Homo sapiens: one gene and its partners. The protein of the gene in region 5 interacts with the protein of the main gene of each other region in a pairwise test. Each region holds a gene or a part of one and is shown on either strand. Other genes may lie near its edges. The genes, in order: CLTA, SF3B3, GABPB1, LHX5, HIP1, SPART and GLS2.

Region 1 (3,500 bases), on a different chromosome or scaffold from region 5:
CTATATACAACAAATAAAACCAAGATGTGCTTATATACAAATTTCACCAAAATGTGTACACATCTGTCCTTAAGCTCCCAAGTCCAAAAGCTTTTGATTTTATTTTCTGTTTTCTATTTTACAGTGGTAACAAATGGAAGACTAGCAGAAAGAGAACAGTGTTTCTCTATGAAAATTCTGCATGAGGGAAAAAAAAAAGTGTGGCCTGGAATCACCCATAGTGAGCAGAGACCTGCAGCTTCATCTTTGAGACAGTCTTGCTCTGTCGCCCAGGCTGGAGCAAAGTGGCCCAATCATGGCTTACTGTAGCCTCGACCTTTTGGGCTCAAGCGAACCTCCCACCTCAGTCCCCACAGGAGCTGGGATTGCAGGCATGCGCCACCACGCCTGGATAATTTTTCTATTTTTTTGTAGGAAGGGGGTTTCGCCATGCTGCCCAGGCTGCTATCGATTTCCTGGACTCAAGCGATCCACCCGCCTCGGTCTCCCAAAGTATTGGATTACAGGCATGAGCCACCATGCCTGGCCTCTCATATTTTTCTTAATTTTCCTAGTTGACTTTTACTCCTATATGTCAGTACAAAAATGAGTTTCTTATAGTTTGTCAGTGGCCTTTTACCACTTTAAGGCATGTGCCACCTACCTATGTAGTTTTTTAAGCACTCTATAAAGTTTTGGAAATATGAAGTTTATCAAACTAGTGAAAGCATGGGGGAAGCATATTCAATTTCGCCTCTGTAATAAATTTCTTGGTGTAGAATTGCTGGGTTACAGCTGGGCGCGGTGGCTCACACCTATAATCCCAGCACTTTGAGAGGCCAAGGTGGGAGGATCACTCGAGGTCAGGAGTTCAAGACCTGCCTGGCCAACATGGTGAAACCCACCTCCATATACTAAAAATACAAAAATTAGCCAGGGTGGTGGCATGAGCCTGTAATCCCAGCTACTCAGGAGGCTGAAAGAGGAGAATTGCTTGAACTCGGGAGGCAGAGGTTGCAGTGAGCCAAGATCGCGCCACTGCACTCCAGCCTGGGTGACGGAGCGAGACTCCATCTCAAAAAATAAAAAAAAAAAAAAAGAAAAAAGAAAGAAAAAAAAGGAATTGCTGGATCACAGGATATGTATTTTATTTTTTTTTGAGAGAGAGTCTTGCTCTGTTGCCCAGGCTAGAGTACAGTGGTGCAATCTTGGCTCACTGCAACCTCCACCTCCTGGGTTGTTCAAGTGATTCTCTTGCCTCAGCCTCCTGAGTAGCTGGGACTACAGGCGTGAGCTATCATGCCCACCTAATTTTTTTTGTAGTTTTAGTAGAGACGGGGGTTTCACCACGTTGGCCAGGATGGTCTCGAACTCCTGACCTCAGACGATCCACCCACCTCAGCCTCCCAAAGTGCTGGGATTACAGGCATGAGCCACTGCGCCCAGCCAGGATATGTATTTTTTTATTTTTTTTGAGACGGAGTCTCACGCTGTTGGCCAGGCTAGAGTACACTGGCGCGATCTCGGCTTGCTGCAACCTCCGCCTCCCAGGTTCAAGTGATTCTCCTGCCTCAGCCTCCCGAATAGCTGGGATTACAGGCACGTGCCACCATGCCCGGCTAATTTTTGTATTTTTTAGTAGAGACGAGGTTTCACTATGTTGGTCAGGCTGGTCTCAAACTCCTGACCTCAGGTGATCCGCCCACTTCAGCCTCCGAAAGTGCTGGGATTTCAGGCGTGAGCCACCGCACCTGGCCCAGGATATGTATTTCAAAGACTTCTAAAATTCTACCCACTTGTTCCTATTAGTCTACCAGTTTATATTACTACTAGCAGCACAAGTGCCCCATTTCTTAGACCTTCCCTGATACTAGGGACTGTGCTTGATCATGTTTTAAAATTTTTGCTAATTTGATAATGGAAAAAAAAAACAAACTCATGGTGGCTTTGTTGTGCCAATCTTATTTCCAGTGAGGTAATCACATACCCGACACCTGATTTTCTTCTTTACTGAATTTTCTGAGTTTGCCTATTTTCCTGCTATTTTTTGATCTCTAAGTATTTGCTCTCTAATAGTCAAATATTTTCCCTAGTTTCTCTTTTGATTTGGTTTATGGTATTTAACACTTGGAACAACTTAATTTGTGTATGTAGACATGATCGACTTTTTCTTCATGATTTCTGTATCTGCTTTTATGCTGAAGGCCTTTCCTATTATGAGATAGACAAATACTCACTTTTCTTCTTTTACTTTTTAAATGTCTCTCTTTAATCCACCTGGAATTTATTTTTGTGTAAGACAGAAGAGTGAGATAGTTTTAAATCCTAGATCCTACAGTGGCTAGTCTGGCCAGGCCTACATTATGGTTAATATAGTACAATTGACATACCAACTATCCACTAATATAGTCCAGCCCTGGGCTGGAATATGAGAGACTTTGATCACTACTCCATATACAAAACAAGAAGCAATCCTCATCCCACATCTCCTTAAAAATCACATGCTGTCTGAAGGCTCCTCCAGACCCACTGGCATCTGCTTTCCTCTTTATTAGTTACTGTATTACTGCACTAACATTCTTACAAGAATCAACTGGCTCAAGCCAAGGGATCGTCTGTTGCTGTGGAAACATGCAGAAAGGACATGTAGGGCCTTGACTTACTACAACAACTAAACTAAGCAACACGATGCTTCAGAAGGAAACTTTCTAGGGCCTTTCAGGAACTCCAGACAGAAAAAGGGCCAGTTTTCAAAAGTGAAAGACTGTCCCAAACCCACTTTCAACTTTCCACATTCCAGAAACATTTGAAGTCAAGCAGACCTACGTTTGAAGCTGCACTTGAGCCATTTATTACCTTGCTACCTTAGTGACACTGCTCAACTTCCACACCGATCCATTCTCATCTGAAATATGACACTACCACTTAACCTGTGGAGCTACTGCTGGGATCTGAAAGTGTACCTGGTATACAGCAAATGTGCAGTACAATTAACTATCATGCATGAGATTTCCCTAAACTTCCCTCCACCACTGCTACCAATAAAATTACTTCTCCAGAAAGCTTCCCTTTAATTCACCCATGTCTCTTTCTTCTCCTACAAGAAATAACTTGTCACCGGGTGCGGTGGTTCACACCTGTAATTCCAGCACTTTGGGAGGCCAAGGCGGGTGGCTCACCTGAGGTCAGGAGTTTCAGACCAGTCTGGCCAACATGGTGAAACCCCGTCTCTACTAAAAATACAAAAAGTTAGCTGGGCACGGTGGTGGGCGCCTGTAATCCCAGCTACTCGGGAGGCTGAGGCAGGATAACTGCTTGAACCCAGGAGGCGGAGGTTGCAGTGAACCGAGATCGCACCACTGCACTCCAGCCTGGGTGACAGAGCGACTGTCTCAAAAACAACAAAACACCATAATAGTGCCTTACTGCTGTACTCTCTCTGTGGCTTGTCTCTCCTGTTCTCTTCCCCGACTCAGCCCTCATGATTGAGAGCTTTTCAACAGCTCCACTTGTGCTGCCTC
Region 2 (3,500 bases), on a different chromosome or scaffold from region 5:
CTGCTGAGCTTCAAACATGAGACTCACTCACCGTAGGGTGTTGGTGGAGATGGCCACAATGCCCTCGGGACACTGTTCCGAGGCAAAACCCGATGCAAATTCCAGTGTCTCGTAAGACAGTGGGGTGAGATGGAAGCGAGATTGGTAAGAATAGCTCAACCATGAGCGGCTTGACATGGCCAATACCTGAGGGGAAAAAAAAAACCCAGCTCCAATAAGGTTTGGGAAAAAATACAAATATGGTATAAGCTGACCAAAAGCCCTATCCCCAAATTTCAGTCTGCAGAGTATCCTAAGATATTCTAGAAATATAACAGGCTATCTTAAGAAAAAGAGGGCTAGAGAGAGGCACTATGGCTTAGCATATGTGAAAAGCATGGGCTACGAGCCATATGATCTAGACTCACCATTTCATCTCTCTAAGCCTGCTTCCACGTGTGTAAAATGAAAACAGTACCACAAGGCTGGACAGCTGCAAGAATTAAATGGAATGAAGGCCAGGTGCGGTGGCTCATGCCTGTAATCCCAGCACTTTGGGAGGCCACGGCAGGCGGATCACCTGAAGTCAGGAGTTCGAGGCCAACCTGGCCAACATAGTGAAACCTCATCTCTACTAAAAATACAAAAATTAGCTGGGCGTGGTGGCATGCGCCTGTAATCCCAGCTAATCGGGAGGCTGAGGAAAGACAATTGGTTGAACCCAGGAGGCGGAGGTTGCAGTGAGCCAAGCTTGCACCACTACATTCCAGCCTGGGCGACAGAGTGAGACTCCATCTCAAAAAAAAAAACAACAAAAAACAGAATTAAATGGAATCAATTAGCACAGTGCCCAGAAACACTAACATTCTTAACTACAAAGGACACAATGTTTCCCAGTCTCTTTCACATTAGGTAGTAAACGTGACACTGATCTAAGACTGGGATAAAACCTGAGAATTCTCATGGCTAGTGGTGTCCTAGAGGGGAGGTTTCCAGCCCTATTTGACCAGCCAGAGGGCTAAAGGGATCGATATCTCTACCCAGCTATAACCAAATCATGACATGGTGCGATGGAGCCCCAGTGAGGAAGCTCTAGGTTAGGAAAACTCAGGACTTCTCACATGAAGGAAACCAATCAAGATGGAGTGGCAAATTAGTGACAGTGAAGCTTACAGCAAAGATTGTTCTCAGATGGTGCCACTAAAATCCCAAAGATGTTGCCTGTCCCCAACCTTCATTACTTACTGCCTCCTGGCCTTGCATTCGGACTCGGAAGAGCTTCACAGGACGGGACCCCAGGTACCGAGTGCGAGTATCAGACAAATCCCCAGTGACAGGGTCCAAGACAGTCCTCAGCAGCACACCGTTCTAATCAAAAGGAGAGGAGCAGGTGAAGCCTGATGGAAGCTTATCAGCTATGATGGGAAAACCTCTCCCTTGGGTACTTCACATAAGAAATTAGAGCAGATAGAAAGAAATGACTTGGGTGTTTAAAAAAGATCCTAATAATCCGATAGCCATTCATTTCATTCTCTCAGTAAATCACTTAATCATCCAAAGTTATGGAGCATCTACTAAGTAAATACACACTTATTTTTCACTATATCTTCTTAATATTTCTTTTTACCAAGTATATTAAATCCTTCTTCACTACTGTATATTTCAAATAAATAATTAAATAACCACAAAGACCATGGTCCCTAAACAGCATTTCCTCTTAAAGGAACAAGGTTCCTAAAAGGAATGACTAGTTTGGGGCAGGGGCAAGAATGTTCCAGACACATGTGGGGATACTTTATTGTGCAACAAGGCAAGGAAACCCCTACAAATAGTGGGGTCATGTTAAAAGGACAAAAGAACTAACTTCAAATAGAAATTCCCACTTTTCTAGAATGAGTCAATTTACCACCCCCCCGCACCCCTCAAAAAAAAAGAAGCCAGGTGAGGTGGCTCACATCTGTAATCACAGCACTGTGGAAGCCAAGGAAGGACGACTGCTTGAGGCCAAGAGCTAAAGACCAACCTGGCCAACATAGCGAGACTCTGTCTCTGTTTAAAAAAAAAAAAAGGAGTTTTCAGCACAAATGTATAAAAATCCACAAGTTTATGATGTTACTCTATTTTTTTAAATTTTTATTTATTTATTTATTGAGACAGGTTCTCACTCTGTCACCCAGGCTGGAGTACAGTGCCACAATCTTGGCTCACTGCAGCCTCCACCTCCCAGGCTCAAGCAATCCTCCCACTTCAGCTTCCCAAGTAGCTGGGACTACAGGCATGAGCCACCATTCCCAACTATTTTTTGTATTTTTGGTGGAAATGAGGTTTCGCCATGTTGCCCAGGCTAGTCTCGAACTCCTGAGCTCAAGCAATCCACCCACCTCAGCCTCGCAAAGCGCTGGGATTACAGGTGTGAGCCACAGCACCTGACCAATGTTACTCTAAAAAACAGCAAAAAACCCACTTTACTGGGCCCCACTGAAAGGAGTGCTGTGGCCCTCACTCCTTACTCTGAAAACAGGTGAACAATGGGAAAAAAATTATTTATCCTTTTCCTGTATGAACCGTACTTATAGTAAGCAAAGAAATGATGCGAATTTTGTCTTTAGAATTCCAACTAATTAAATCCAAAAAGAAATAAATCATTTTCCAACCACTAATGAAAGAATGAACCTAGGCAATGTGTGTAATAGCTGTAAGTAAAGGGTTGACGGGAACTTTAACACAGATACAGACAAACATCCCAACATCACTGTGAGTGGGACAACCAGACACTACACTCCTCCTGACGTGATGCAACAGGAGTAAACAGCACCACCTATTAAGTATTCCTGTCCCCCTCCCCCAATAATTAAATCTGAATCTAACCAACTTCTTCTTCTGCAATATCCGATACTATAGCTACCCCAAGCCACATGTGGCTAGTCAGAACTGAGACAGGACCAGGCATGGTGTCTCACACCTGTAATCCCAGCCCTTTGGGAGGCCAAGGCGGGTGGATCGCTTGAGCTCAGGAGTTCAAGACCAGCCTGAGCAACATGGCAAAACCCCATCTCTACTAGAAACAAGAAAAATTAGCCGGGCGTAGTGGTGCACACCATAAACCCAGCTACTCAGGAGGCTGAGGCATGAGAATCGCTTGAACCCAGGAGGCAGAGGCTGCAGTGAGCTGAGATCACACCACTGCACTCCAGCCTGGGCAACAGAGCAAGACTCTGTGTCAAGGAAGAAATTTTTTTTAAATAAAGACAAATAAAATTTTAAAGAGAACTAAGACTGCTAAGTGTAAAGTGCCAATACCAGATTTCAGACTTGGTTTAAAAAAGAGAGAAAAAAAGGTGAAATAGCTCAGCAATTTTTATATTAACTACATGTTAGAATGATTTCAGATATACAGAGTTAATAAAACATTAAAACTGGCCAGGCACGGTGGTTCATGCCTGCATTCCCACCAGCACTTTTGGAGGCCAATGTAGGAGGACCACTTGAGGCCAGGAGTTCAAGACCAGTCTGAGCAACAC
Region 3 (3,500 bases), on a different chromosome or scaffold from region 5:
ATTAAAAAGCCTCAGTGGAAATAGTAACACATATATACTAGCTGAAAAGAGTCAGGATGAAGCCAATATTATTGACAAAAAAGATGTCCTCTGAAGCGACAATCTGAATTATGCTATTCCAAAACTGCGTAAGTTAGGAAAGTAGTAGTAAAAGAACTCAGGAGTTGACTAGCCTGGCCAACACAGTGAGACCTTGTCTCTACCAGGAAAATACAAAAATTAGCCAGGCATGGTGACACATGCGTGTAGTCCCAGCTACTCGGGAAACTGAGGTAGGAGGATCACCTGAGCCTGGGGAGGTCAAGGCTGCAGTGAGCTGCAATTGTACTCCAGCCTGGGCAACACAGTGAGACCCTGTCTTCGAAAAAAAAGTAAAAACTCACGGCAGCAATTGTAATTCAATTCTTAAAATTTTTGAAATGAAGAGAAATGCAGCAGATAGCTAGAAAGAACAGTAGCAGCAGTTCATCAAAATTGATTTTTTTTCCTCCCAAAGTACAGATGTCTGTACATTTTTTTTTGTTTTTTTTTTAGATGGAGTCTCGCTCTGTCGCCTAGTCTGGAGTGCAGTGGTGCGATCTCGGCTCACTGCAAGCTCCGCCTCCCGGGTACACGCCATTCTCCTGCCTCAGCCTCCCGAGTAGCTGGAACTACAGGCGCTCGCCACCACGCCCAGCTAATTTTTTTTATTTTTAGTAGAGACGGGGTTTCACTGTGTTAGCCAGGATCGTCTCGATCTCCTGACCTCGTGATCCACCCGCCCTGGCCTCCCAAAGTGCTGGGTTTACAGGCATGAGCCACCACGCCCGGTGAGAAGTCTGTACATATTTTAAGGTAGGGAAGAAAAAACATTGCAAATAACAATCAAAGTGACCAGAGAGGTAAAGTTAACTGTGGCAGCAGGATTCTTCTTCCGTTCAATTTACAAAATAAGATGAAAGAACAGTGATTTGTCATGGTTACAATGAAAAAAAAATGTGCAAGCTTGTACCCTGTTTTCCTTTTTCACTTATATAGAAGTAAATGGCATCTATTAAGAGTTAAAGAGGAAGAAGGAATATGAGACAACAGAAAAATGCAATTAATAAGATGATTGCCAAGAAGTAGGAGGGGCCTATTTGGAATTGTTCAGCGTAAATTTATAGTGGCCAAGAAATCTTCATAATTACTCACCTTCCTCCACAAATATGCTGTGACCTGTGAGGGAAAACAGAAGAAATCGATGGTGGAAAAATCTGACAACAGGAGTCCAGTAAAATATAAAATAAGTGATTGATGTCAAAGTGCAGACTGTATCTAGTGCATACAGGAGTTAAGCTAAACGTCTCAGACTGTTTGGGTTGCTGTAACAAAATACCATAAACTGGGTAGCTTACAAACAACAGAAAGTTTTTTTTTTTTTTTTTTTGTAGAGATGGGAGTCTCACTATGGTGCCAAGGCTGGTAGTGAACCACCTCACCCAGCCCAGGAGGCTGAGAAGTCCAAAATAAGGCACTGGCAGATTCAGTATCTGGTAAGGGCCAGCTTCTAGACATCTGTCTTTTTGCTGTAACCTCATGTGGAAGAAAGAGCTAACAAGCTGTCTGGAGTCTTTTTTTTTTTTTTTGAGACAGAGTCTCACTCTGTCGCCCAGGCTGGAGTGCAGTGGCGCCATCTCGGCTCACTGCAACCTCCGCCCCCCCCAGGTTCAAGCGATTCTCCTGCCTCCACCTCCTGAGTAGCTGGGATTACAGGCACCTGCCACTGTGCCCGGCTAATTTTTGTATTTTTAGTAGAGATGGGGTTTCACCATCTTGGCCAAACTGGTCTTGTACTCCTGACCTCCTGATCCACCCACCTCAGCCTCCCAAAGTGCTGGGATTACAAGCATGACCCACTGCACCCGGTCTGGAGTCTCTTTTTTAAGAGCACTAATCCCACTCCTGAGGGCTCTACCCACCTGAGCTAATCACCTCCCAAAGGCCCCATCTCCTAATGCCATCATCTTGGAGGTTAAGATTTCAACATGAATTATGGGGAGACACAAGCTTTTAGACCATAGCACTTAGGGCAAGAAACTGAGGGTCACTATGAATGGAACAAGTAAAGGAACACAGGAAGAATAATCACATTGGCAAAGATCACAGAGTTCACACAAGTCATTTAGGGCACAAAGGAAATTTTTTAGATCATTCACTTACACACCATACAAATTTTTTTTATTTTTTATTATTAAAAATAATAATAAATATGGAACACATCATAAATTTATGTGTCATCCTTGTGCAGGGACCATGAAAATCTTCTCTGCATCGTTCCAATTTTAGTATATGTGCTGCTGAAGCAAGCACTATACTACTAATTATTTTTTCCTCTGTTTGGATACATGGGAAGTGCTGTGGAAATAAAGGATTCCAGGAGTCAGAAGGGGCTATACATCCAAAACCGTTATCATAATGAGAAGAATTGACCTAATTCCAAAGTTCAGTACTGTAATTTTACAACCACCTCAGTCTCTACATGCACAGAATGGGTGCATTAAAGACAGGTATCACAGTGTCATCTACCCACCTCCTTTAAAGAATCACTACTATAGGCTGGGCGCAGTGGCTTATACCTGTAATCTCAGCACTTTGGGAGGCCAAGGTGGGCAGATCACTTGAAGTCAGAAGTTGGAGACCAGCCTAGCCAACATGGCTAAACCCCGTCTCTACTAAAAATACAAAAATTAGCTGGGCATGGTGGCGGGCACCTGTAACTGCAGCTACTTGGGAGAATCACTTGAACCCGGGAGGCAGAGGTTACAGTGAGCCTAGATCACACCACTGCACTCCAGCCTGGGTGACAGAGTGAAACTCCATCTGGAAAAAAAAAAAAAGAATCACTACTATAGTAAACCACCATAGTAAAAGTATCTTATCCCTCAAGTGTAATGAGACATAAACAAGCTAATTGGGTTATAGGAATGCTCAAGCCTCTTTCAGAAAAAGATTCTACATTATGTAATATAATCACAGCATTAGTGGGTTTAAGATATTCTTTAAAATAGAATCACAGTCAGGACCAACAGGAGTAGTTTTTTAAATTTTTTTTGGAGACAGAATCTTGCTCTGTCACCCAGGCTGCAGTACAGTGGCACAATCTCCGCTCACTACAACCTCCGCCTCCCAGACTAAAGGAATACTCCCACCTCGGCCTCCCGAGTAGCCGAGACACAAGCACACACCACGTCTGGCTAATTTTTGTATTTTTAGTAGGGACGGCGTTTCACCATGTTGGCCAGGCTGGTCTCGAATTCTTGACCTCAAGTGATCCGCCCGCCTCGGCCTCCCAAAGTGCTGGGATTACAGGCATGAGACACTGAGCCCGGCCATTTTTTTTTTTTTAAACTTTGAAACTTTTTGGCTGGGCACAGTGGCTCACACCTGTAATTGCTGCACTTTGGGAGGCCGAGGCAGGCAGATCACAAGGTCAAGAGATCAAGACCATCCTGACCAACATGGTGAAACCACGTTTCTAC
Region 4 (3,500 bases), on a different chromosome or scaffold from region 5:
GGCGGCCGGGCCGGAGGTAATTGGAACAAACGCCGTCTGAAAAGGGCACAAAAGCCGCAGCTGGGGCTTTGTCCGCGCTCCCACGGGGAGCCGCCGGCCCCGCCGCCCGGCCCCTTTCTCGCCCGCTGCCGGTCGCCACCGCCGGGATCTCCCAGCGCGGATTAGGCGGGGCTGCCTCGCTGGGGGCTGGGGAGTCTTCCCCACCATTACGGGGAACGAGGGGCCCCCAGTATCCAGCTCCCCACCTCATCCAGCGCGCAGGGAGAGGAGGCGGTGGGATAGGTCGGGGCGGGGGCGAAGTGGTCCTCGGGGAAACCTTGGTTAATTATCCAGGCGGGGAAAAATTCCGGGCCGGTACCGCCCCCACTACCTCGCTGCTCCGGGCCCAGATTTTGTAGGGAAAGAGGCAAATTTAGGTGGAGAGAGTCGGTGAGTGGAGACTCCGGAAGACACGCCCACCATCCGGGCTCTCCAGGGTTGGGGGTCTGTCCGGGGTTGGGGGTCTGTCCAGGGTTGGGGGGCTGTCCAGGGTTGGGCGGCTGGGGCGCTCCAGCCTGAGCCCTGCCACTGCCTGGGGTCTCTGCCCTGAAAAGCACAGCCTGGCATTTTGCCCACAATTTCTAGGGGCCCCGGTCCGGTCTCAAGGTCTAATCCCCCCTCAGGCTTCCGGATGTGCTGAGGTTAGTGATGGGGTTATCTTCCCTTCCCTTCTGCGTCTACCTGGGTGCCTAGCTCCTGCCTTGCTAACACTGCCACTGAACCCACTTTCTAAGAGAAATTGCCTCTTCCTAACCTGCGTTACAACTCAGAAGTGCAGATGCCTCTCAGACATAGACAGTCCTGGGGTCTCTCCAAATTCAGAAGCTTCAGAATAGAAGAGGAGAGGTGCTTTCTTGAGCCCTCAGCCCTGGGAAGAACAGGACAGTGAGCTTGGTGAGCTCAAGCAATGCGGCTCAGGGTAAGGAGCTGAAAAAATCGGATAGGGGGAGTTGGGATGGCTCACCAATCCAGTGTGAGGGAAGTGAGAGGAGGAAAAGCTGAGGTGGCAAGGGGACAGCTCACCCCAGGCCCAAGCCTGGTACCACCATCTGAAGCCCTTTGTAAACTGGGGCTCCTCGCTCTCTGCAGCCCCAAAGACGGTGGAAATCTGGGGTTGGCCCAACACTTGTGCCCCCAGTCTGTAGGAACCCCAGGGGTCTCGGGGCTGGAGGGTGGACTACAGTCCTGCCCAGAGCAACTGCCGGCATTTGGGCTAACACTGCCAGATGCTGTGCGCACACACCCCGCCACATGGAACAGGAGTTGCTGCCTTCGATGCTAGTGAGCAGGCGGCTTGGAATGAATCCAGACCCCCATCCCCTCCCCTCACACTACCCTCCAGCGCTCGGAATCCACCTCATGCCAAGTACACCAGGCACAGGGCGGCAGGAAGGCTGTGCGTCTGTCCGTGGGGGCCGCATGCATGTGGATTTGCCAGTACTGGCCTCAGTGTGACTGGTGGGAGTGTGCGCGTCTGTGGAGTTGTGTCTCCGTGAGTGTACCTGTGTGTGAGAGGGTGGAATTTACCTATACGTGATCGTGCGATCGTGTCTAGACGTGTGTCCCTGGAGTCTCTGAACGCAAGTGTGAGTGCACCTTGTGCCCTGCGTGGGTGAATGTGTCACTGTATCTCGTGTGTGCTTCTGTGTGCATCACTGTATGGGTGAGACCATGTATCTGATTTTGTGTCCAGGACATGTGGGTGAGTGTACATGTGTCTGTGATCGTGTGTCCAGCGAGTGGGCGATGTTCTGGAGCGGCGGAAAGCGTGCTGGCCGGGACCCTTCGCCCTCAGCTCCCGGAATAGGACAGGTGCGGAACAGCGAATCCCGGGGCGCCCCTTACCTCCGTAGTAGGTGTACGGGGTGGACCCCAACATCTCAGACTCGTCCAAGCGGCCGCCCAGCGGACGCATGCGCCGCGGACTCCGGAAGAAGGCGTGCCTCCGGGCGCCTAGGGCGCTCAGCTGTTTCATCCGGCGTTCTTTGGACCGTCGGTTCTGAAACCACACCTGGGACAGAGGAGGGGGCTGTGAACCCAGGATCAGGAGTGTCCTCTCCCCCCCTCTTCTCCCTTCCCTGACTGGGCTGCCCCTGCTGGGTCCTTGCGCCTCTTCCGCACCAGGACTCCCCCGAGGCGGGGCCGGGCCGGATTAGGCCGGGAGGGGTGGAGAGAGGCTTCGGCGAACCAGCCAAGGGTGAAGGATTTCGCGGACCCGTGGGGCGACTCATAAAGACTTGGGCTTCCTGGTCCCCGGCTCGCCCGCGGCCTGACGGCTCTATAAAGGCCTCCCTCCCGGCACGGCTCTCGCCTCGGCCCCTCGGCTCCGGAGCCAGCCTCTGGCCGTTTGTCTGCCCGCGCTTCGGCGCAGGGAGGGAGGGGGCATCGCCTGTTTCTCTGCTCGAAAGGTGGAGGTAAAGAGGGATCCCGGACCCCAGAGAGGCTTACAACCTTCCATAAGCAAGGCGGGGGGCGGAATTCAGAGAGGTAAAGTGACCCGCCCCCAAATCGCAATACCAGGAGGACAGCAGGGCTAGATGGAATCTTTCGGTTCACAGTCCCCGACCTCGGGCAAGTGCCCCACTCGGGCGCACGGTCTGCTCCCAGACCAGAACCAGGCGCGCTCGTAGCCAAGGAAGCTTGGCGGGAGACTCCTCCGAGGCTCCCGGCTCCCAGGCCAGCGGGGCTAAGGAGCTGTGCCCGCCCCGGGCCGCACCTGGATGACGCGCATGTTGAGGCCGGTCTCCTGCGCCAGCTGCTCGCGGATGTGGCGCGTGGGCTTGGGCGTGGCGGCGAAGGCAGCCTTGAGCGTCTCCAGCTGCTTGGCCTTGATGGTGGTGCGGGGGCCGCGCCGCTTGGTGCCCGAGTTCTGCTCCTCGTTCTCGTTGTTGGCCGTCTCCTTGTCCGACGAGGTCGAGTTGTCCGTCTCTTTGGGGTCGTCCTGCAGTGCGTCCTGGAGGTCCGGGGACAAACTGCGGTCCGTACAGGATGACACTGCGGGCGGACGGATCGGGAAGGGGACAGCGGCGTCAGCGACGGCCAGACGCCTCTTCAGTCCAGTGGCGGGTTCCCGCCGGCCCAAGCTACGGCCTGCCCAGGCTACGGCCAGCCCCGCTGGATTCCCTCCCAAACCTGCGACAGCCCCTCCCCCAGGGACCCGGTGCCCGCCCACTCTCTCCAGGCGGGGCTGGGCCTTTGGAGGGGCGCTCTTAAGCCCTCTCCGCGCGTCTCAGCTAGTACCTGGGTAAGGGTAGGGGGACGCGTACCCTCTGGAGAACTCCCACTTTCAAGGAGAGGGGACAAGGAGGGCACAGATTCCCTTGGGGCTTGGATCTTCCTCTCTCTTCCCTCCTCTCTCCAGACCTCAATTAATGTCCTTCCAGTGCATCAAGAAATTACCTGGAGCTCAAGTGACACATAAGGGGGAATTGTGCGCTTCCAAATTAGGGGAGGAGGGCAAC
Region 5 (3,500 bases):
AAGCCTGTTGCCCAGGCTAGAGTGCAGTGGTGCGATCATAGCTCACTGCAGCCTCCCACTCCTGGGCTCAAGTGATCCTCCCTGCCTCAGCCTCCTGAGTAGCTGGGACAACGGGCACACACCACTAGGCTCTGCTAACTTTTAAACTTTTTTGTAGAGTCAGAGTCTTGCTTTGTAGCCCAGGCTGTATCAAACTCCTGGCCTCAAGTGATCCTCCCGCTTCGGCCTCCCAAAGTGCTGGGATTTTCAGACATGTGCCACTATGCCTGGCCTGTCTTATTATTATTATTTTTTAATTCCACATAGATGCATCCCTATTAAGTTTGAATGTTTGAGTCTTTATATAAAAGGAATCCTACTGTATATATTTTTCCATGACTTGATTTTTCACTCAACATTCTATGTGTGAGATTCATCCTAATACCTAGTAATTCTGATTCTATGTATATACTCTAGAGAAACTGACATGTGTGCATATATGATCATAGGGGCAAATTAATAACAACCCAAACTGGAAATAACCCAAGTGTCCATCACCAAGAGAACAGACGGATGAATTAAGCGATATTCACACAATAGATAATGAGAGAGCAGTGAAAATGAATTTATCTTCTTGGATTAATCTCACAGAATGTGGAGTGAAAAAGCCAGTTGTAGAAGAATATATACAGTAGGACTCCATTTACCTGTAGTCTATATCATGTGAAACTAACTCTATTATTTAGGGAGGCAAAGATGTAGATGATAATTTTTTTTTTTTTTTTTTTTTTTTTTGAGGCAGTGTCTCACTCTGTCGCCCAGGCTGGAGTGCAGTGGTGCAATCTCGGCTCACTGCAGCCTCCGCCTCCCAGGCTCAAAGGATTATCCTGCCTCAGCCTCTCAAGTAGCTGGGATTACAGGTATGTGCTGGGATTACAAAATTAGCCACCACAACTGGCTAATTTTGTATTTTTAATAGAGATGGAGTTTCACTATATTGGCCAGGCTGGTCTCAAACTCCTGGCCTCAAGTGATCCACCCACCTCAGCCTCCCAAAGTGCTGGGATTACAGGCGTGAGCCACCACACCTGGCCCTGATCTTTTTATTTTTTCTTTTTAGAGACAGGGTCTTACTCTCTCACCCAGGCTGGAGTACAGTGGTTCACTGCAGGTGAACCACTCTGCAGAGTACACTCTGCAATTCACTGCAGAGTACACGGTTCACTGCAGTCTTGAGCTCCCAGGCTTAGGTGATCCTCCTGCCTCAGCCTCCTGAGTAGCTGGGACCAAAAGTGCTCACCATCACACCCGGCCAATTTTTAAATTTGTTGTAGAGACAGGGCGCCACTAAGTTGCCCAGGCTGGTCTCAAATTCCTGGCCTCAATTGATCCACCCACCTTGGCTGGATGTGGTCTTTTTATTATCTTCTTCTGGAACTCCAATTAGACAGTCTATCCTCATGGCTTTTATTTTTTATTTATTTTTTGAGTGGAGTTTCGCTCCTGTTGCCCAGGTTGGAGTGCAAAGGCACGATCTTAGCTCACTGCAACCTCAGCCTCCCAGGTTCAAGTGATTCTCCTGCCTCAGCCTCCTAAGTAGCTGGGATTACAGGCGCCTACCATCACGCCTGGCTAATTTTTTGTACTTTTAGTAGAGATGGGGTTTTGCCATGTTGGCCAGGCTGGTCTAGAACTCCTGACCTCAGGTGATCCACCTGCCTCGGCCTCCCAAAATGTTGGGATTACAGGCGTGAGCCACCGTGCCTGGCCCTATCCTTGTATCTTAACCAATATATTCCAATTCATAACACTGGGGAAAAAATGAAAAAAAACTGTACTGCATAGAAATGGTTTTCTTATTTTTCTTTTCCATAGAGTCCATGTCTTCTCTGTCCCTATATATACTTAACCCAATTTCTGGTATACAGGACATATTTATTTATAGCAGAGGCAGGGTCTCACTCTGTTGCCTAGGCTGGAGTGCAGTGGCACAATCATAGCTCACTGTGGCCTCCAAATCCTGGGCTCAAGCGATCCTCCTGCCTCAGCCTCCCGAGTAGCTGGGACTACAGGTGCGTGACATCACACCTGTCTAATTAAAAAAAAAATTTTATTTTGTAGAGACAGGGTCTCACTATGTTGCCTAGGCTGATATTGAACTCCTGGCCTCAAGTGATCCTCCTGCCTCGGCCTCCCAAAGTGCAGGGATTACAGGTGTGAGCCACCATGCTCGGCACTACATCTTTAGTAAATGAATGAACACAGTGTTATTTCCATTTTGGGTATTACCTGCCCACCTAGATAAAAATCCTCAGAGACAGGGGAGCTGCCTATACTTCTTTGATATTGCCTAGTGTAATGATGACAACATAGTAGATTCTCAGCTAACAGCCAGTGAATTAAATATAGCTGGAAAGTCCTTCAGGAGGTTTTTCCTTTTTAAATTTTTTTTTTTTTAATTTTTAAAGAGACAGGGTCTCATTTTGTTGCCTAGGCCTGTCTCAAACTTCTGGGATCAAGTGATCCTTTTTTTTTTCGAGATAGATCTCACTCTTATGCCCAGGCTGGAGTGCAATGGCATGATCTCGGTGCACTGCAACCTCCACCTCCTGGGTTCAAGCAATTCTCTTGACTCCACCTCCCAGTACCTGGGATTATAGGCATGCACCACTATGCTGGGTTGATTTTTGTATTTTTAGTAGAGACAGGGTTTCACCCTGTTGGCCAGGCTGGTCTCTAGCTCTTGACCTCAAGTGATCTGCCCACCTCAGCCTCCCAAAGTGCTGGGATTACAGGCGTGAGCCATCCCGTCTAGCCTCAAGTGATCCTCCTGACTCGGCCTCCCAAAGTGCTGGGATTACACGCATAAATCACTGCACCCGGCCAGATTTTCCAATTTTAACAATCTCTTTCTAGAATCAAGTTCTAAGTGCAGAAAGAACTAGCTCAGAACATCACCGATTCCCTGGCCATTCACCAGCACGCACACCCAGAAGAATAACAATGCTCCTCAATGATACTACTCCAAGTACCTCGCCGATGGCCTTGATCTTGCTCAGGCAGTTCCTCATGGCTGTGCTGTCGGCATTCTCAAGGCTTCCCTCTTCCTCCAGGGAGGCCAGGTAGGCGAGGGTTTCCCTGCCATACTGCTTACAGGCCTCGGTCAGTGCTGGAGATACAAGGCAATAGACACTTTTTTTTTGAGATGGAGTCTCGCTCTTGTTGCCCAGGCTGGAGTGCAGTGGCGCCATCTCGGCTCACTGCAAACTCCGCCTCCTGAGTTCAAGCGATTCTCCTGCCTCGGCCTCCCAAGTAGCTGGGATTACGGGTGCGCCACCATGCCCGGCTAATTTTTGTATTTTTAGTAGAGACGGGGTTTCGCCATGTTGGCCAGGCTGGTCTCGAACTCCTGACCTCAGGTGATCTGCCCACCTCGTCCTCCCAAAGTGTTACGGCGATTACAGGCGTGAACCATTGCATCTGGCCCATCGTTTTTGTATCTTTAGTAGAGATGGGGTTTT
Region 6 (3,500 bases), on a different chromosome or scaffold from region 5:
CTTATTGCCTTGGTCCAACTGTTTCACATCAGTGCCAGAGGCTTCTTTTAGTTGGTCAGAGGAGGGTCTAGTTCTTCCAGGGATTTGGAATTCATTTTCTTCTTCTGCTCTGTTCCAGTTGGCCTAGAGAATAAAGGTTTAAGCTTAACTCTAATCAGAATTTTTCTTAGATGGCTTTCTGCCAGCTATATTACACCATGCTCAAATGACATACTTGTTTGAATGTCAGTTTGGCAGTCTATCAGTAACAACTACTTTTGCTTTTTTCTCTACGATTCTCTTTTGTTTCATCACCAAACCCCAAACCTCTGAGTTCTTTGGTTCATAGCATATGCCTAAGTAAGTTTCAAAAGACAACGTGTAAAAGACAACTTATAGCAGTTGTTGGTATAAGTTATCTTTGAATCAGATGCAGCTACATTTAAATTTAATTAATGAATAAATTTTAGTTAACATGTACAAGAGAAAGTGAATTTAAAGGCAATTAACAAAACTCATGTCCATTTCATTATGCATTATTGGAAGGTTTATTTTTTAATTTTCTGCACAATATACACTTTGCTGAATGAATGCTTAAGAGTAAAAACCAGTCAAAATTATAGCTAGTAACTAGCTTATGTTTACAGTTGAAGTTCTGGGACAGTAAAGCAAGCTAAAAATAACATACAAATACCAAAAAATTAAATTGAAGACAGAAAATAAACATACAACCTAAAAGTCTGCTTAGTTTCTTTCCTAAAGCCCAGTAATACAGGTCCAGTTAACGTAGGGGTGAAGGGAGAAATAGTTCCACATTAGGTCTGTGAATACTTAAGAGCATCATTTCACTCAGTAAACAGTGAAGTGAAGATGAACTCCTTCATTTGACCATATTCCTGCCTTTGTGAATTCCTCCTCACAAGTACAATGAGGCTACACACTTCTGTATGCTGATCATGTATTTTGTTAAATAATTGCTGCTATGCTAAAGTATTGGTTTGTTGACCACCAGGTAGGTCATTCTCGGGTGAACAGGGGCTGATTTTATATTTTCATACACACACACACACACACACACACATCCCCCACACCTTCGTGGTCTCCTGTTCTCATACTTTGCCCATCCCATCACTTAACACAGTAACTGGTTAAATAATGAATTCCAAGTATCTGCTGATTGAAGGAGAGAATAAAAGATTATACTATTATAATGCCCACCTCATTCAACCCCTGATGACTGTCAATATTCATAATCAAAAATACTTTTTCCCTCTTGCTACAACAATATATAAAGAAAGTCTCTCCATAATACTCTATTCAAGTTCCCTGTTAAACAGAAATACTCTATTTCTACAGGTACGCATGTGGGCAGAGGAAACATGCCAAATAAGGAAAGTTCCAGGATGATCATATTTTAAATCATATTTTCTTTTTATTTTTTTATTTGGCCTTCATTTACCACAAGAACAAAGATAATTATCTCAACCAAAGCCTGTTTCTTCCTCAGAATGCCAACCATACCCCTTAAAATGTCCAACATAACCTATCTACTAAAGCTAAAATTATCTTCATGTCACCATTTAGACCCATTAGTACACTTTTCCAGCTGAGCAATAAAACAGTGGTGAAAACAATAGCTAACATTCACAGAGCATAACTACTCGTTCTGATATAAGTGCTTAATGTATTAATTTTTAATTTTCACCACAGCCCAATGAAGTGGACACTGTTATTATCCCCATTTTATAAGTAAATTAAAGTATAGAGAAGATCAGGAACAGCTGAGCTAAACGGTCATTAAGTGGAAGAGTTTGAATTCATATACAGGCAATTTGACTCTAGAGCTCACAATCTTAACCACTATTACAGCAAATTCCAAGCATGTAGTTGTGAACACACAAACAAATGGTGAACTGTCAGTCTCCTAACCTTGATTACAGTAGAGGTTATTACAATTTCTCTAAAAGCTGAAGTGCTTATGTTAAAGTAGATTTTTTTCACCCTAAAGATGATCACACAAGTTACCTGGAGCCGAAGGTCAGACATTTGCCTTAACAGATCCTCAAAGAGCTCTCTATCATCCTCTGGTAACTCAGAGGACAGGACGACCCCCACAAAGCATCCTGCTGCTTGTAGCATTGTATCAGGAAACATGTAGGCTCCCGCAGTACATTTCAGAACCGGAGATCTATCAGGAACTAGAGGATATAACCAGTCACAAACCTGAAAGGATTCATTAGAAGAAAAAAAATATACATATAAATAAATGAAACTAGATTTTCATTTATGTTTTAATAAAATTGTTATACTAGAAAATAAACACTTCAAAGTTGGAAACATATTTTAAAAGGCTTTAAGAAACATCAACATCAACAAATCCCCAAGAAAATTAATCATTTGCTAGTCTGATCTTTCTGCAATAAGGACTGTGCTAAATGTGCCATGGCTCCACTAATTATACAATCTTAAAGCTGATGGCCTTAACTAGCCTAGTGTTAACCAATAATGACTCCAGCTTTAAATAAATAATAATCAAAGTAAATTAAGGTTTTCGTTATTGAAATCAGATATTCCTTTTGTGGTAAATAAACTATTTTCAGATATTATTTACTTGAAATATTTACTGAAATAATAGTATTTACTGATTTAATCCTCCTAACAATCCTATGAAATCAGTTACTATTATTGTCATTTTATGTACAAGAAAATTGAGGCACAGAGAGGTCAATTAAGTCGCCCAGAACCAACAACTAAAAAGTGGAGCTTGGATTTTAACACATATAGTCTGGACCAGAGAAGCTGAACAAGTATTTTAATTAGAAACCCAGCACTCACAGGCCGGGCACAGTGGCTCACACCTATAATCCCAACACTCTGGGAGGCCAAGGAGAGGTGGGGGGATTATTTGAGGTCAGGAGTTCAAGACCTGCCTGGACAACATGGTGAAACCCCCATCTCTACTAAAACTACAAAAATTAGCTGGGGGTGGTAGTGCATGCCTGTAATCCTAGCTCCAGCTCCTTGGGAGGCTGAGGCAGGGGAATCACCTGAACCTGGGAGGTGGAAGTTGCAGTGAGCCAAGATTGTGCCACTGCACTCCAGCCTGGGCAACACAGCAAGACTCTGTCTCAAAGAAAAAATAAATGAATAAATAAGAAATTCAGCACTCACTCACAACATGGAATAATTTTTTGTACTAAACCCAAGAGAACCTGACATAACAGAATAGATTAAGTTAATGTTTATGGATTATCTATCTATTGTGAAATTAAAAGCAAAATAACAAAAGCTCTCCTGCAATGTCATCTGCGGAGGTCGGCTTGCCAGTACATACACAGACATAAGCTCACATCCTGGCTGCCTAATTTATTTCTAATGCAATACATTCTTTGAGAAACCAAAATATAACTGTGCTCAACATCAAAACAGTCTTACCCACAAACTTTTAACATTTGAGTAGTTATTTATTTTAATATGTATGAGAAAAATACATATTTCCCTTAATTTCAGTTATTATTAAG
Region 7 (3,500 bases), on a different chromosome or scaffold from region 5:
GCCTCAGCCTCCCAAAGTGCTGGGATTACAGGTGTGAGTCACCATGCCCAGCCTACTTCTTATTTCAAGTGCTTATTCTGTAGGCACTGGGGAGCTACCAAACGTTTTTGAGTAGAGAAATTACATTTGAGTTTAGAAAGATCACTGGCACATTTTGACTGGGCGTGGTGGCTCATACCTGTAATCCCAGCACTTTGGGAGACTGAGGCAGGCGGATCACGAGGTAAGGCGTTCGAGACCAGCCTGACCGAAATGGTGAAACCCCGTCTCTACTAAAAATACAAAAAAATTAGCCAGGCGTGGTGGTGCACACCTGTAATCCCAGCTACTCAGGAGGCTGAGGCAGGAGAATCGCTTGAACCCAGGAGGCGGAGGTTGCAGTGAGCCGAGATCGCGCCATTGCGCTCCAGCCTGGGCGACAGAACCAGACTCCGTCTCAAAAAAAAAAAAAAAAAAAAAAAAGATCACTGGCACATTTTAGAAGGTGGATTGAGGCAACAAGAGCAAAACTCTGTCTCAAAAAAAAAAAAGATGGATTGAAAGTCAAGAGAGTGTAGTGGCAATTAGGTAATAGGGAATAAGGAGCTGATGATAAACATGATTTATTGAACATTTACTTTGTGTCAGGCAGTTTTTCACAGAATATTATCTTAAGCCTCACATCACCCAGGTGAAGTAGACATTACTACCCTTGTATTACAGATAGGAAGCAAGTTCAGCAATATTAAGCGACCTGCTCAAGATCACACAGCTATTAAGGGGCAAACTCTGGTCTACTACACCATGCTGGCACAGGGAAAAGGAGGAGAGGGTGGATTTGAGACATTATGAGGCAGATTCATCCAATGTTGGTGACCAACTAAGCATGGACTTAAGGTGTGGCAACTATCAAAATGATGCCACATTTCCAGCTTGGCACCCAGGTGGGTGGTAATGCTGTTAACCCAGGTGGGAAACAAGAGGAGAAGAAGAGGGAAGGAAGTGAGATGACTCAGGTTTGGACATATTTTTCAGTGCTTGTGGGGAACCTATAGGTGGAAGTGTGAGAAGGGAGCTAAAAATAAAGATCTGAAGGTCAGGAGTAAAAGCTAGAGAAAAGATCTACAACTTCTTAGGACAGACATGAAAGTTAGATTTATAGGGATAGATCAGATGGCTTAAGGAGGAGGCATAGAATGAGGACACTCACCTACTTATAAGCCCATGTTGCAGAAGGAGGAGCAGGTAGCAGTTCTCAGGCCCCACTTTCCTCCCCATTCTCTGCCCCCAAACAGTGATTCATCAGAAAGTGGCATGCTGTCCCGCCTGGGTGATTTGCTCTTTTACACTATTGCTGAAGGACAGGAACGAATCCCTATCCACAAGTTCACCACTGTAAGTTGCCCTCTACCTGTTCAGGATCCTAATTCCTTAAGATCTCTGAAAAGTGGGGAAAGGAGGGTATGACAAGTGCAGGGCAGCTAATGGGTTGCTACATGAGGGTGAAGCATACAGATGGATGAGAATCCAGATGTCTAGGCTGACAAGACAAGCCCATCCCTGCCCCAGGGTCAGAAGATTAAACCCTCTGGAAAAAGGACAGGAAACCCTTGTTAGCCTTCAGAGCTACTCCATCCCCTCCTTTCTTATTCTCCAAACCCATTTGTTCCACCTATTGTAGTGGTTGGGGTTCAGCTAATTGGGTATCCAGTGGGAAAGATTATGAGGAGTACATCACTGTCCTTGTAGCTGACCTTTCTGGCCTCTTCTTTCCTCTAAAGGCACTAAAGGCCACTGGACTGCAGACATCAGATCCTCGGCTCCGAGACTGCATGAGCGAGATGCACCGCGTGGTCCAAGAGTCCAGTAGTGGTGGCCTCTTGGACCGAGATCTCTTCCGAAAGTGAGGGCCCCAGAAACAAGGGCACTGCTCTCTGAAAACTGTCCTGTGGACATAGACTCTCAGAGCAGGGAGGAATTTGGGAATTGTATAGTTCAATTCCTCATTTTATTTTATTACTTATTACATAAGTTATACATGAATACTCATCATAAGAGTTCAAACAATATAGAAATACATGTTCTCCTTTCCCTCCCTACTCAATCCCTGTCCTCTTTTCCCAGAAGTAAATATTAGCAGATTAGTGGGTATCTTCTAGATAATGTCCTATGTACTGACATACATACATGAATATATATAAATATACTTTTATGATTTAGGATTTTTTAAATATCAAGGTAACATACATACATATTATTCTGGTATTTATTTTTTTTCTCATATCCCAAGACATAGTGTCTTTCCACATCATTAAAACCCCTCATTTTAGAGGTACGGAAACTAAGACCTAGAAAGGTAAACTGATTTGCCAAAGGTAACAGAGCTGTTGATCCCAAACCTGAAGACCACTCAACCTTCTTTATTCCCAATTTCCGTGGCTCCAGAGTGAGTCCCAGCTGCATTTCTCTAGCCCCCTAATCCAATCGTGTCTGGGATCCAGGTGTGTGAGCAGCAACATTGTGCTCCTGACCCAGGCATTCCGAAAGAAGTTTGTCATTCCTGATTTTGAGGAGTTCACGGGCCATGTGGATCGCATCTTTGAGGATGTCAAAGAGCTCACTGGAGGCAAAGTGAGAGTCAGGGGACTAAGGGAGGGGTCAGGGACCTGGGCCAGATTTTTTTTTTTTTTTTTTTTCCTGAGACAGAGTTTTGCTCTGTCACCCGGGCTGGAGTGCAATGGTGCAATCTCAGCTCACTGCAACCTCCACCTCCCAGGTTCAAGCGATTCTCCTGTCTCAGCCTCCCGAGTAGCTGGCATACACCACCATGCCCGACTAATTTTTGTATTTTTAGTAGAGATGGGGTTTTGCCATATTGGCCAGGCTGGTCTCGAACTCCTGATCTCAAGTGATCCACCCACCTCGGCCTCCCAAAGTGCTGGGATTACAGGCATGAGCCACCACACCTAGATATACCTCGCTTCTCAGAGATTTCCTGGGGCTGGGAGTCCTATGAATGAGAGATGAGAAGCAGAACTTCTGTAAATGGTGACATGGCTTCATGTGTTTCTATACACGATTCCTAGAGCAGGTGAGGGAATCAAGATCGAATAGAGCCTTCAAAGGGATTTATAGGGTAACTGAGCCTAAGAACCAAAAGGGGAAGGTTGCCTCAGAATTCTCCTTTTTTAACTTCCATTGGCTTTACTGCTATCTCTACAGGATTGCGGATACACAAAGATATGGCCTTCTAGGACTTAAGGCTCGGGCATTTCTGGGAGCAACAGGCAGGAGGGAACCCCTCTGCCCTATAGAAGACAGAATTTTAGCTTTTATCTAAAAGATTCTCTTGACCCTCAACCTCAACTCTGTTCCTCTTCTCCACATCCATCTCCCTTTTCTCTACCCACTCATGTCCAGGTGGCAGCCTACATCCCTCAGCTGGCCAAGTCAAACCCAGACCTGTGGGGTGTCTCCCTGTGCACTGTGGATGGTCAACGGTGAGATGCTGGGCAAGAGGA

Evidence for each region.
Region 1: the proteins of HIP1 (region 5) and CLTA interact in binary tests that used the Homo sapiens proteins (3 or more experiments, as listed by UniProt).
Region 2: the proteins of HIP1 (region 5) and SF3B3 interact in binary tests that used the Homo sapiens proteins (3 or more experiments, as listed by UniProt).
Region 3: the proteins of HIP1 (region 5) and GABPB1 interact in binary tests that used the Homo sapiens proteins (3 or more experiments, as listed by UniProt).
Region 4: the proteins of HIP1 (region 5) and LHX5 interact in binary tests that used the Homo sapiens proteins (3 or more experiments, as listed by UniProt).
Region 6: the proteins of HIP1 (region 5) and SPART interact in binary tests that used the Homo sapiens proteins (3 or more experiments, as listed by UniProt).
Region 7: the proteins of HIP1 (region 5) and GLS2 interact in binary tests that used the Homo sapiens proteins (3 or more experiments, as listed by UniProt).

What each region holds. Positions count from the first base shown.
Region 1 is NC_000009.12:36,193,921-36,197,420, reverse strand, and holds part of CLTA (clathrin light chain A), read right to left. Parts: intron 1-3,500. UniProt on the Homo sapiens protein: Clathrin is the major protein of the polyhedral coat of coated pits and vesicles.
Region 2 is NC_000016.10:70,558,316-70,561,815, reverse strand, and holds part of SF3B3 (splicing factor 3B subunit 3), read right to left. Parts: intron 1,348-3,500; coding exon 1,225-1,347; intron 187-1,224; coding exon 32-186; intron 1-31. UniProt on the Homo sapiens protein: Component of the 17S U2 SnRNP complex of the spliceosome, a large ribonucleoprotein complex that removes introns from transcribed pre-mRNAs.
Region 3 is NC_000015.10:50,345,199-50,348,698, forward strand, and holds part of GABPB1 (GA-binding protein subunit beta-1 isoform beta 2), read right to left. Parts: intron 1,198-3,500; exon of another isoform or gene 1,174-1,197; intron 1-1,173.
Region 4 is NC_000012.12:113,465,372-113,468,871, forward strand, and holds part of LHX5 (LIM/homeobox protein Lhx5), read right to left. Parts: intron 3,034-3,500; coding exon 2,756-3,033; intron 2,051-2,755; coding exon 1,885-2,050; intron 1-1,884. UniProt on the Homo sapiens protein: Plays an essential role in the regulation of neuronal differentiation and migration during development of the central nervous system.
Region 5 is NC_000007.14:75,550,442-75,553,941, forward strand, and holds part of HIP1 (huntingtin-interacting protein 1), read right to left. Parts: intron 3,149-3,500; coding exon 3,012-3,148; intron 1-3,011. UniProt on the Homo sapiens protein: Plays a role in clathrin-mediated endocytosis and trafficking. Involved in regulating AMPA receptor trafficking in the central nervous system in an NMDA-dependent manner. Regulates presynaptic nerve terminal activity.
Region 6 is NC_000013.11:36,329,395-36,332,894, forward strand, and holds part of SPART (spartin), read right to left. Parts: intron 2,203-3,500; coding exon 2,005-2,202; intron 124-2,004; coding exon 1-123. UniProt on the Homo sapiens protein: Lipophagy receptor that plays an important role in lipid droplet (LD) turnover in motor neurons.
Region 7 is NC_000012.12:56,478,162-56,481,661, reverse strand, and holds part of GLS2 (glutaminase liver isoform, mitochondrial isoform 1 precursor), read left to right. Parts: intron 1-1,274; coding exon 1,275-1,374; intron 1,375-1,760; coding exon 1,761-1,882; intron 1,883-1,953; exon of another isoform or gene 1,954-2,480; coding exon 2,481-2,610; exon of another isoform or gene 2,611-3,399; coding exon 3,400-3,479; exon of another isoform or gene 3,480-3,500.